Regions from separate parts of the Homo sapiens genome. Here regions 2 and 3 are each linked to region 1. Evidence: fine-mapped expression QTL. A gene starts in region 1. Each other region holds a variant in brackets. All regions are shown on one strand. Distances are between the middles of the regions.

Region 1 (2,755 bases):
GTCTCTCATGTTACTAGAGGGTGGGGTAACTTTGGAGCTAAGAGGTGATCTGCAGCAAGCAAGACTGATGTTAGACTTAGCAAAGGACCCCCATGGCCTAGCGAGGTGGACTGAAGCTCAGCGAAACACAGGGTCAGGGCTGTGGGCCAAGGGGACAGGGCCTGAGGGCACGGCGGCAGGGGCATGGTGCTGATGAGGCCATCTCCTTCGTGCACTGTGGCCAGATATATTTTTAGGCTTTTCCGCAGCTGAGTAATTTATCTGACTTAGAGCCAAAGCTGGGGTTGGGGGTGAGAGCCTGTGGGGAGGTGTCCAGATTATCCTGAGGGACACTCGGTTCACTGGGGTCATCAACCTGGTTGGGAGGGAGTCCCTGTCAGCCCCAGCCTGTATCCTTTGGGAAGGCTGTCCTACCCCAGGAGCCGAAATTTTTGGCCTCTAACTCCTTTCTCTCCCAGGGACCCAGGGTGCTGTGACTTCTTCCACCCAGCCTCACCCCCTCAAGGACAACGGGCTATGAGCCCCAATCCGCTTTAGCTGCAGATTAAACTCCATGCCAGACAGAAACGGAAAAAGACACAGAGAGACGGAGAGACCCATGGTGGGAGAATTAAAACACAGAGACGGGGACAGGGACCCAGAGAAGTGGGGACCAGAGATCCAGGGAAGAGGAGAGACCCAGAAAGAGGGGGACAGAGACTCTGAGTCAGGAGTTGATAGAGATCCAGTGAGAGCAATGGCCAGAGAACCAGAGAGAGGGGCACAGAGACGCAAAGAAGCGGAGGCAGAGATCTAGGGAGAAGGAGGGGCCCAGAGAGAAGGGAGCCGAGATCTGGAAAAAGAGGGAGACGGAGACCCAGAGAGAAAAGGGGCAGAGACATCCAGAAAGAGACGGGGACAGAGACCCAGAAGTGGTGGGGGAGGAGCCAGAGACCCGGGAGAGAGGCATTTACAGCACCAGAGAGAGTGGAGCCGGGTGGGGTGGGGTGCAGAAAAAGGAACAGGATAATGGACAAGGCTCGACCAGGGAGAACAGCGCCGTCGGAGCCCACGGCAGAAAACTGGACAGATGGGTGGACCCCCATGCCGGGGTATCGCCCGTTCATCTGTCAGTCTGCGCCCAGGTGGGAATTAGCATCCTCCTCAGATCCTCCCACTCTTCTCCCGGGACCCCCGCCAGGCTCACCGGTGCAGCTTCCCGAGAGCACGACCCGCTAGCTTCCGAAACTCCTCCTGGCGGAACTCCATGGTGGCGGCTCCTGCCGCCGGTCACCCCGCGGGTCCCCCCCGCCGATCCCCCCGCCCGCGGGCCCGGGCGGCCGCGTCCGGGTTCCCGGGGTCCAGCCCCGGCCCGGCCGGCCCCGCAGCTCCGCTCGGGGGGAAGGAGGCTGCAAGTGCAGGCGGCCCGGGGGCTGTCACAGGACTCAGCGCCGGGGGCGGGGCGCGGGAGGCCCCGCCCCGGCCCCACCAGGCCCCTCCCCTCGTCTGTCAGACCCGCCCCCTCTCGCAGCCCTTTCATCCTCGTCCTGTCCCCTCCTGAGCCTTCCAAGACCACGCCTGTGGGTTCTGAACTCACGCCTCCGAGTTCACGCCCCCCAATTCTGTTCCTTCCCCAGGCTACTCCCCCTATCCCTGTTCCATCACCCCTGGCTCCTACCCAGATTTTCTCTCCTCTCCTGAGTTCTCATCCCCATCATTTCTCTCCCCGACTTCTGTTCCCCCTAATTGCGTCCCTTACAATCCTGTCTTCTCTGACTTTCCCTCTGCGTTCATCCTCCAGTTCCTTCACTCCTCCCCGCCCCCACCCCGCAATTCCATCCCCATCCCACCTCGTCCCCAGTTCCAATAGTCTCATCCAGGGAGTTCTTTGTTTTCTCATTCAAGGGAAATTCTTTCCCCTCAAGTCCAACGCCTACTTCGATCCACCTGTCGTCCCCCTCTAGTCCCTTTCGCCACCCGGGTTCTTCACCCTTGAGCTCCATCTCCTCCTTAGTTTCCATCTTTCCCCTTTGAATCCCATACTCCTCCAGCTCTATTCTCCCTCCGGCGTCTCTCTCCTCCCTGTTGCTTCTCTCCCTGAGTTTCATTCCCTAACCCCGATTTTCTTCCCTCTGGCTTCCGCCCCCCACAGTTATATTTCACACACCCCGCCAGTGCCAGCTGCGACCCCATAGTCTCCCCATTGTGTTATTTCTCTGCTCCTCTGGGATCTGTCCGCGCTCTGAGTTCTTCCCTAGCTCCGGGGGATCCATTCCTCTATTTGAGTTCTGTCTCCACCCCCTGAGATCTGTCCCGCCCCCTAAATTGTGATCCGCACCCCCTGGCATCCTCACCCGCCCTCTGAATTTGTCTCCTCCCCTAGGATCTGTCGCTGACCTGAGTTCTGCCCCCGCCCTCTGAGTTCTCTCCCCACCGTTGGAGTTGTGTCCCCTTCTCCTAGGATCTGTCCCTGGCTCTGTTCCCGCCCTCTCAGTTCTGTCCTTGCCCCCTGGAATCTGTTCCTGCCATCTGAGTTCTACCCCTTCCCCACAGGATCTATCTCTGCCCCCTGGAATCTGTCCCCACCCACCGAGTTCTGGCCTCCGTCCCTGGGATCTGTCCCCGCCCTCTGTGTTCTACCCCTGCCCCATGGGATCTGTCCCCGCCCACCCAGTTCTCCCCGCCCCCTGGATCTCTCCCTACCCTCCCAGTCTTGCCCCGGCCCCATGGGATCTGTCCCCGCCCTCCGACTTCTGACCCTCGCCACTGGGATCTG
Region 2 (2,755 bases), 27 kb after region 1:
TCACGAGGTCAGGAGATCGAGACCAGCCTGGGCAACACGGTGAAACCTGGTCTCTACTAAAAATACAAAAAATTAGCTGGGTACGGTGGTGGGCACCTATAGTCCCAGCTACTTAGGAGGCTGAGGCAGGAAAATTGCTTGAACCCAGGAGGCAGTGGTTGCAGTGAGCCGAGATCGTGCCACTGCACTCCAGCCTGAGTGACAGAGTGAGACCTTGTGTCACAAAAAAAAACAAAAAACAAAAAATACCTGGCCAGACATGGTGGCTCACGCCTGTAATCCTAGCACTTTGGGAGGCAAAAGTGGGTGGATCGCTTGAGGCCAGGAGTTTGAAACCAGCCTGGGCAACACAGTGAAACCCTGTCTCCACAAAAAATAGATAAATTAGCTGGGCATGTTGGCACCAGTCTCCCTCTGGCACCCGGCTGGAGTGCAGTGCCACAATCATGGCTCACTGCAGCCTCAACCTCCGAGGTCCAAGTGAGCCCCCCACCTCAGCCTCCTGAGTATCTGGGATCACAGGCACACACCAGCACACATGACTGGGTGTTTTTGTATTTTTGCAGAGACAAGAGACTCGCCATGTTGCCCAGGCTGATCTTGAACTCCTAGCTTCAAGTGATCCGCCTGTCTTGACCTCCCAAAGTGCTGGGATTATAGGCGTGAGCCACTGCGCCTGGCCAGGGATTACATTTCAACATGAGATTTGGGTGGGACATCTGAACTATATCATGGGCCAAACCATATTTCTTTCTTTCTTTTTTTTTTTTTTTTGAGACAGAGTCTCGCTCTGTCGCCCAGGCTGGAGTGCAGTGGCGCAATCTCGGCTCACTGCAACCTCTGCATCCCAGGTTCACGCCATTCTCCTGCCCCAGCCTTCCGAGTGGCTGGGACTACAGGTGCCCACCACCACACCCGGCTAATTTTTTTTTTGTATATTTAGTAGAGACAGGGTTTCACCATGTTAGGATGGTCTCGATCTCCTGACCTCGTGATCCGCCCACCTTGGCCTCCCAAAGTGCTGGGATTACAGGTGTGAGCCACTACACCCGGCCTTCTTTTTTTTAAATTTTATTTTACTTTAGTTCTGGGATACATGTGCAGAACGCGCAGGCTTGTTACATAGGGATACACGTGCCATGGTGGTTTGCTGCACCTATTGACCTGCCCTCTAAGTTCCCTCCCCTTGCCTCCCACCCCCCAACACCATATTTATTTTTAACAAAAGAAAATAGACCAGGCGCAGTGGCTCACGCCTGTAATCTCAGCACTTTGCGAGGCCAAGGTGGGCAGATCACAAGGTCAAGAGATCGAGACCATCCTGGCTAACACAGTGAAACCCCGTCTCTACTAAATATACAAAAAAAAAAAATTAGCCGGGCATGGTGGCAGGTGCCTGTAGTCTCAGCTACTCAGGAGACTGAGGCAGGAGAATGGCGTGAACCCGGGAGGCGGAGGTTGCAGTGAGCCAAGATCGCACCACTGCACTCTAGCCAGGGCGACAGAGTGAGAGTCCGTCTCAAAAAAAAAAAAAAAGAAAGGCGGTTATGCAGGATGTTTCTCACCGCCCGAACCCCCGTGGAATGATTCACTTTGACCAGCGTCTGCGAAATGGCAGGGGCTTCCACAATGGTGCGGTTTGGGCCAACACCAAGTGTTGGGGAGAATGTAGAGGAACTGGATCTCTCATTTACTGCGGG[C/T]GGGGCTCCCCTGCCCCACACGTGACCCACCTGTCCCTGCAGGTAGCCGGGCTGAGAGGCCCTGTGCTGCGCCTGCGGGAGCCGCTGGGTGTGCTGGCTGTGGTGTGTCCGGACGAGTGGCCCCTGCTTGCCTTCGTGTCCCTGCTGGCTCCCGCCCTGGCCTACGGCAACACTGTGGTCATGGTGCCCAGTGCGGCCTGTCCTCTGCTGGCCCTGGAGGTCTGCCAGGTATAGCCCCCTGCCTTCCTGCCTCTCCTCCCCGTAGCCTCAGGGCAGCAGAAAAAGGCGCCCCAAAGTCGGCAGGAGCTTGTCTCTTACCCCACCCTCCGTGGTACCCATGCTGCCCCCAGCCCCAGCACCCAAACCTTCACTCCTTGGGGACCCAGTGCCCATTCTTCACCCTAGGCCTGGGGCTTTCTCCTCCATGACCCCCCATCCCCTTCCCTCCCATGGGCACCCCCTGAATGCCCACTCCTTGCCCTGCCCCCACGGCCTCCCCAACCTTTCACTCTCTCTATCCCCTAGGACATGGCCACCGTGTTCCCAGCAGGCCTGGCCAACGTGGTGACAGGAGACCGGGACCATCTGACCCGCTGCCTGGCCTTGCACCAAGACGTCCAGGCCATGTGGTATTTCGGATCAGCCCAGGTGCTCTTTGTTCTGTTTTGCCATCTTCAGCATCTCAAACTTCAAACAGGCTCCTCCTTTTCTGGAAACACAGCCCCGCCCTCTTAGAACTCCTGTTGGTAAGGGGAGAAACTCCTTGACAAGAAGGTTTTGAGGCCCCGCCCTTAGGACTCAAGTTACTAAGGAAGAGGCTGTCCTTAGCAACAGGGGCCTGAGAGCTGCCTAGCCCAAAGACCTCGTCTCAGGGGACAGCCCGTTGCTAAGGACCACACCCTAGATTTGGAGGCCCACAGTCTACGCTTTGTTTTTCTATTTTGAGACAGAACCTCACCCTGTCACCCAGATGCAATCATACCTCACTGCAGCCGCAACCTCCCAGGCTCAAGCCACCGTCCCACCTCAGCTTCCTGAGTAGCTGGGACCACAGG
Region 3 (2,755 bases), 330 kb after region 1:
CACAGGGAACACCCTGATATACAACCTCAGGACCTGACTGGTTCTGTGAAGAAAAATAAGGAGGAAATGGTCGGGAGAGGGACTAGGATGGAGAGGGTACTCAGTAGGCCTCGTGGAGGAAGTCATATCTGAGTGGAGCAAGCCCTGTGGATTTTGGAGGAAAGGGGTCCTGGCACAGGGAGGTGCATTCAGAGGTCCTGAGGTTGCGGCATGCTTGACATGTGTTCGAGCGAGAGGGAGAAGGTCAGTGTGGCTGAAGCTGTGGGAGTGAAGGGGAGAGAGGGCGGGTGTGGAGGGGAGTGGGAACAGGATCGGGAAAGGCTTTCTGGGCCATGGTGAGCACTTTGGCCTTTGTCTGCATGAGAATATTTTGAGCAGGGGAGGGATGTGACCGATTGATGTTTTAAGATAATTCCTCTGGCTGCTGTGAGAACAGATTCTAGAGGTAGCCATGGAAGCAGGGAACCAAATTAGGAGGGTGTTGCAGGCCTCTGGGTGAGAGATGGTGCTGGCTTAACAGGGTGAGAAGGGACTGGTGAGAAATGGGTTGGTGATACATTTTTTTTTCCGAGACAGTCTCTGTTGCCCAGGTTGGAGTGCAGTGGCACGATCATACCTCACTGCAACCTCCGCCTCCCAGGTTCAAGCAATTCTCGTGCCTCAGCCTCCCCGGTAGCTGGGATTACAGGCACCCGCCACCACGCTTGGCTAATTTTTGTATTTTTAGTAGACGCAGGGTTTCCCCATGTTGGCCAGGCTGGTCTCGAACTCCCAACCTCAAGTGATCTGCCCGCCTTGGCCTCCCAAAGTGCTGGCATTATAAGCGTGAGCCACTGCACCCAGCCTGGGATACAACTTGAAGGAAAAACTGTCAGGATTTGCAAAGGGATTTGATGATGGGGGTTGGGGAAGGAAAGAGATCGTCCCGTCACTGCAGGACCCCAGAGACGAGCCAGAGGACAGAGGGGAGATGCAGGCTTGGGGCACTGGTAGTAATTTAGCCACAGGAATTAGGGCTGGAGAATCAGGAGCCTTTTCTTAGCAAGCGTATGTTGAACGGCTGGTATGTCTCAAGAATTGTGCTGAATGCTGGGGACACTGGTGAACAGGACAGACTTGTCCACCCCCTCCATGAAGCTCCCAGCCCTGTGGGGGAGAAGGTGCAACATACAAATTGCAGTAGTCCTTCACACTAATACCTGGACACGGATGTTCACTGCAACATTATTCATGATAGCCGGAAAACAGAAACGGGCCAAATGCCCATCAACTGAGAAATAAAGTGTGGTCTATGTAGTGGAATATTACCGGGCCTTAAAAAATAATGACGTCCTGCTACATGCTGCCACAGGGATGGACCTTGAAAACATGACACCAAGTGAAAGAAGCCAGACACAGGAGGCCACGTGTTGTATGATTCCATGTTGATAGAGTATCTTGAATAGGCAGATCCATGGAGACAGAAAGATTAGTGGTTGCCTAGAGTAGGGGCTGGTGGGATGGGGAGTGACTGCTCATGAATGCATAGGTTCTTTTTTTATTTTTTGAGATGGAGTCTCACTCTGTCGCCCAGGCTGGAGTGCAATGGGGTGATCTCGGCTTACTGCAACCTCTGCCTCCCAAGTTCAGGCGATTCT[C/T]CTGCCTCAGCTTCCTGAGTAGCTGGGATTACAGGCGTGTGCCACCACACCTGGCTAATTTTTGTACTTTTAGTAGAGACGGGGTTTTTACATGTTGGTCAGGATGGTCTCGAACTCCTGGCCTCAGGTGATCCACTACCCCAGCCTTCCAAAGTGCTAGGATTACAGGTGTGAGCTACCATGCCCGGCAGCATTCAGAGCTTCTTTTGGGTTCATGAAAAAGCCTACAGCTGGACACGGCACATGCTTGTAGTCCCAGCTACTTGGGAGACTGAGGTAGGAGGATCATTTGAACCCAGGAGTTCGAATCCAGCCCGGGCCACATAGTGAAACCTCATCTCTTAAAAAAAAAAAAAAAAAAAAAAAGAAAGGTCCTGGAATTCGATAGTAGTAATGGTTGCACAACATCATGAATGTACTAAAGAACGCTGAATTGTTCACTGTAAAAGGGTCAATTTTATGGTATGTGAATTGTATCTCTTTTTTTTTGTGACAGTCACAAAAATGGCGCGATCTTGGCTCACTGCACCCTCCATTTCCCAGGTTCAAGCGATTCTCCTGCCTCAGCCTCCCGAGTAGCTGGGATTATAGGCGCCCGCCACTATGCCCCGCTGATTTTTGTATTTTTAGTAGAGACAGGGTTTCACCATGTTGGCCAGGCTGGTCTCGAACTCCTGATCTCGAGTGATCTGCCTGCTTCAGCCTCACAAAATGCTGAGATTACAGGTGTGAGCCACCGCGCCTGGCCGTATCTCGATTTTTTTTTAAATGGGGAAAGAATTTGCAGCTGTCCTAAGCCCAGTGAGGAAGAGGGCCATGGTGTTGAGAGAATGGGGATTCTGTGTGGTCAGCGAGCTGCGGCCTGGCTTTGCTTCACAAGAGACCTTTGGAGCTGTGTGGGCAGGAAGTAGGGGAGTTACCTAGGCTGAGGGCAGTGAGAAGAGCTGTGAAGGCAGAGGCGGGGCAAGTGCAAAGGTCCTGACTTCCGGACGCCATGGCGGGCATCTCTATCTAGTCCCAGCTACTCAGGAGGTGGAGGCAGAAGGATTGCTTGAGGCCAGGAATTTGAGACCAGCCTTGGCAACATAGCAAGACCCTGTCTCTCTTTCTTTTTTTTG

Direction of the effects. Alleles are on the strand shown, and positions count from the first base shown. SD is a standard deviation of normalised expression in the study named. Not every link is listed here.
For the expression in prefrontal cortex of the gene that starts at base 1,396 in region 1, C is the low allele of the variant in region 3 and T is the other (moderate effect, 0.73 SD a copy in ROSMAP).

The links. PIP is the estimated chance that this variant, and not a neighbour inherited with it, causes the effect.
Region 2: its variant is the best candidate, but not a certain one, in a credible set for the expression of SLC17A7 in aorta (GTEx, PIP 0.68).
Region 3: its variant is the best candidate, but not a certain one, in a credible set for the expression of SLC17A7 in prefrontal cortex (ROSMAP, PIP 0.67).

The regions. Positions count from the first base shown.
Region 1 is chr19:49,440,132-49,442,886 of GRCh38, forward strand. SLC17A7 (solute carrier family 17 member 7) reads right to left here and starts at 1,396. Exons shown (of 12, transcript NM_020309.4): 1 at 1,187-1,396. The coding sequence starts at 1,248.
Region 2 is chr19:49,466,639-49,469,393 of GRCh38, forward strand. ALDH16A1 (aldehyde dehydrogenase 16 family member A1) reads left to right here. Exons shown (of 17, transcript NM_153329.4): 15 at 1,743-1,928; 16 at 2,226-2,348. Among named protein-coding and RNA genes, the nearest start is that of FLT3LG, 6.2 kb to the right of the region's middle. RefSeq lists an enhancer at 2,196-2,395. The variant C/T (reference allele first, on the strand shown) is at 1,701.
Region 3 is chr19:49,769,324-49,772,078 of GRCh38, forward strand. All of the region lies in intron 1 of AP2A1 (adaptor related protein complex 2 subunit alpha 1), which reads left to right. Among named protein-coding and RNA genes, the nearest start is that of AP2A1, 3.7 kb to the left of the region's middle. RefSeq lists an enhancer at 2,082-2,755. The variant C/T (reference allele first, on the strand shown) is at 1,638.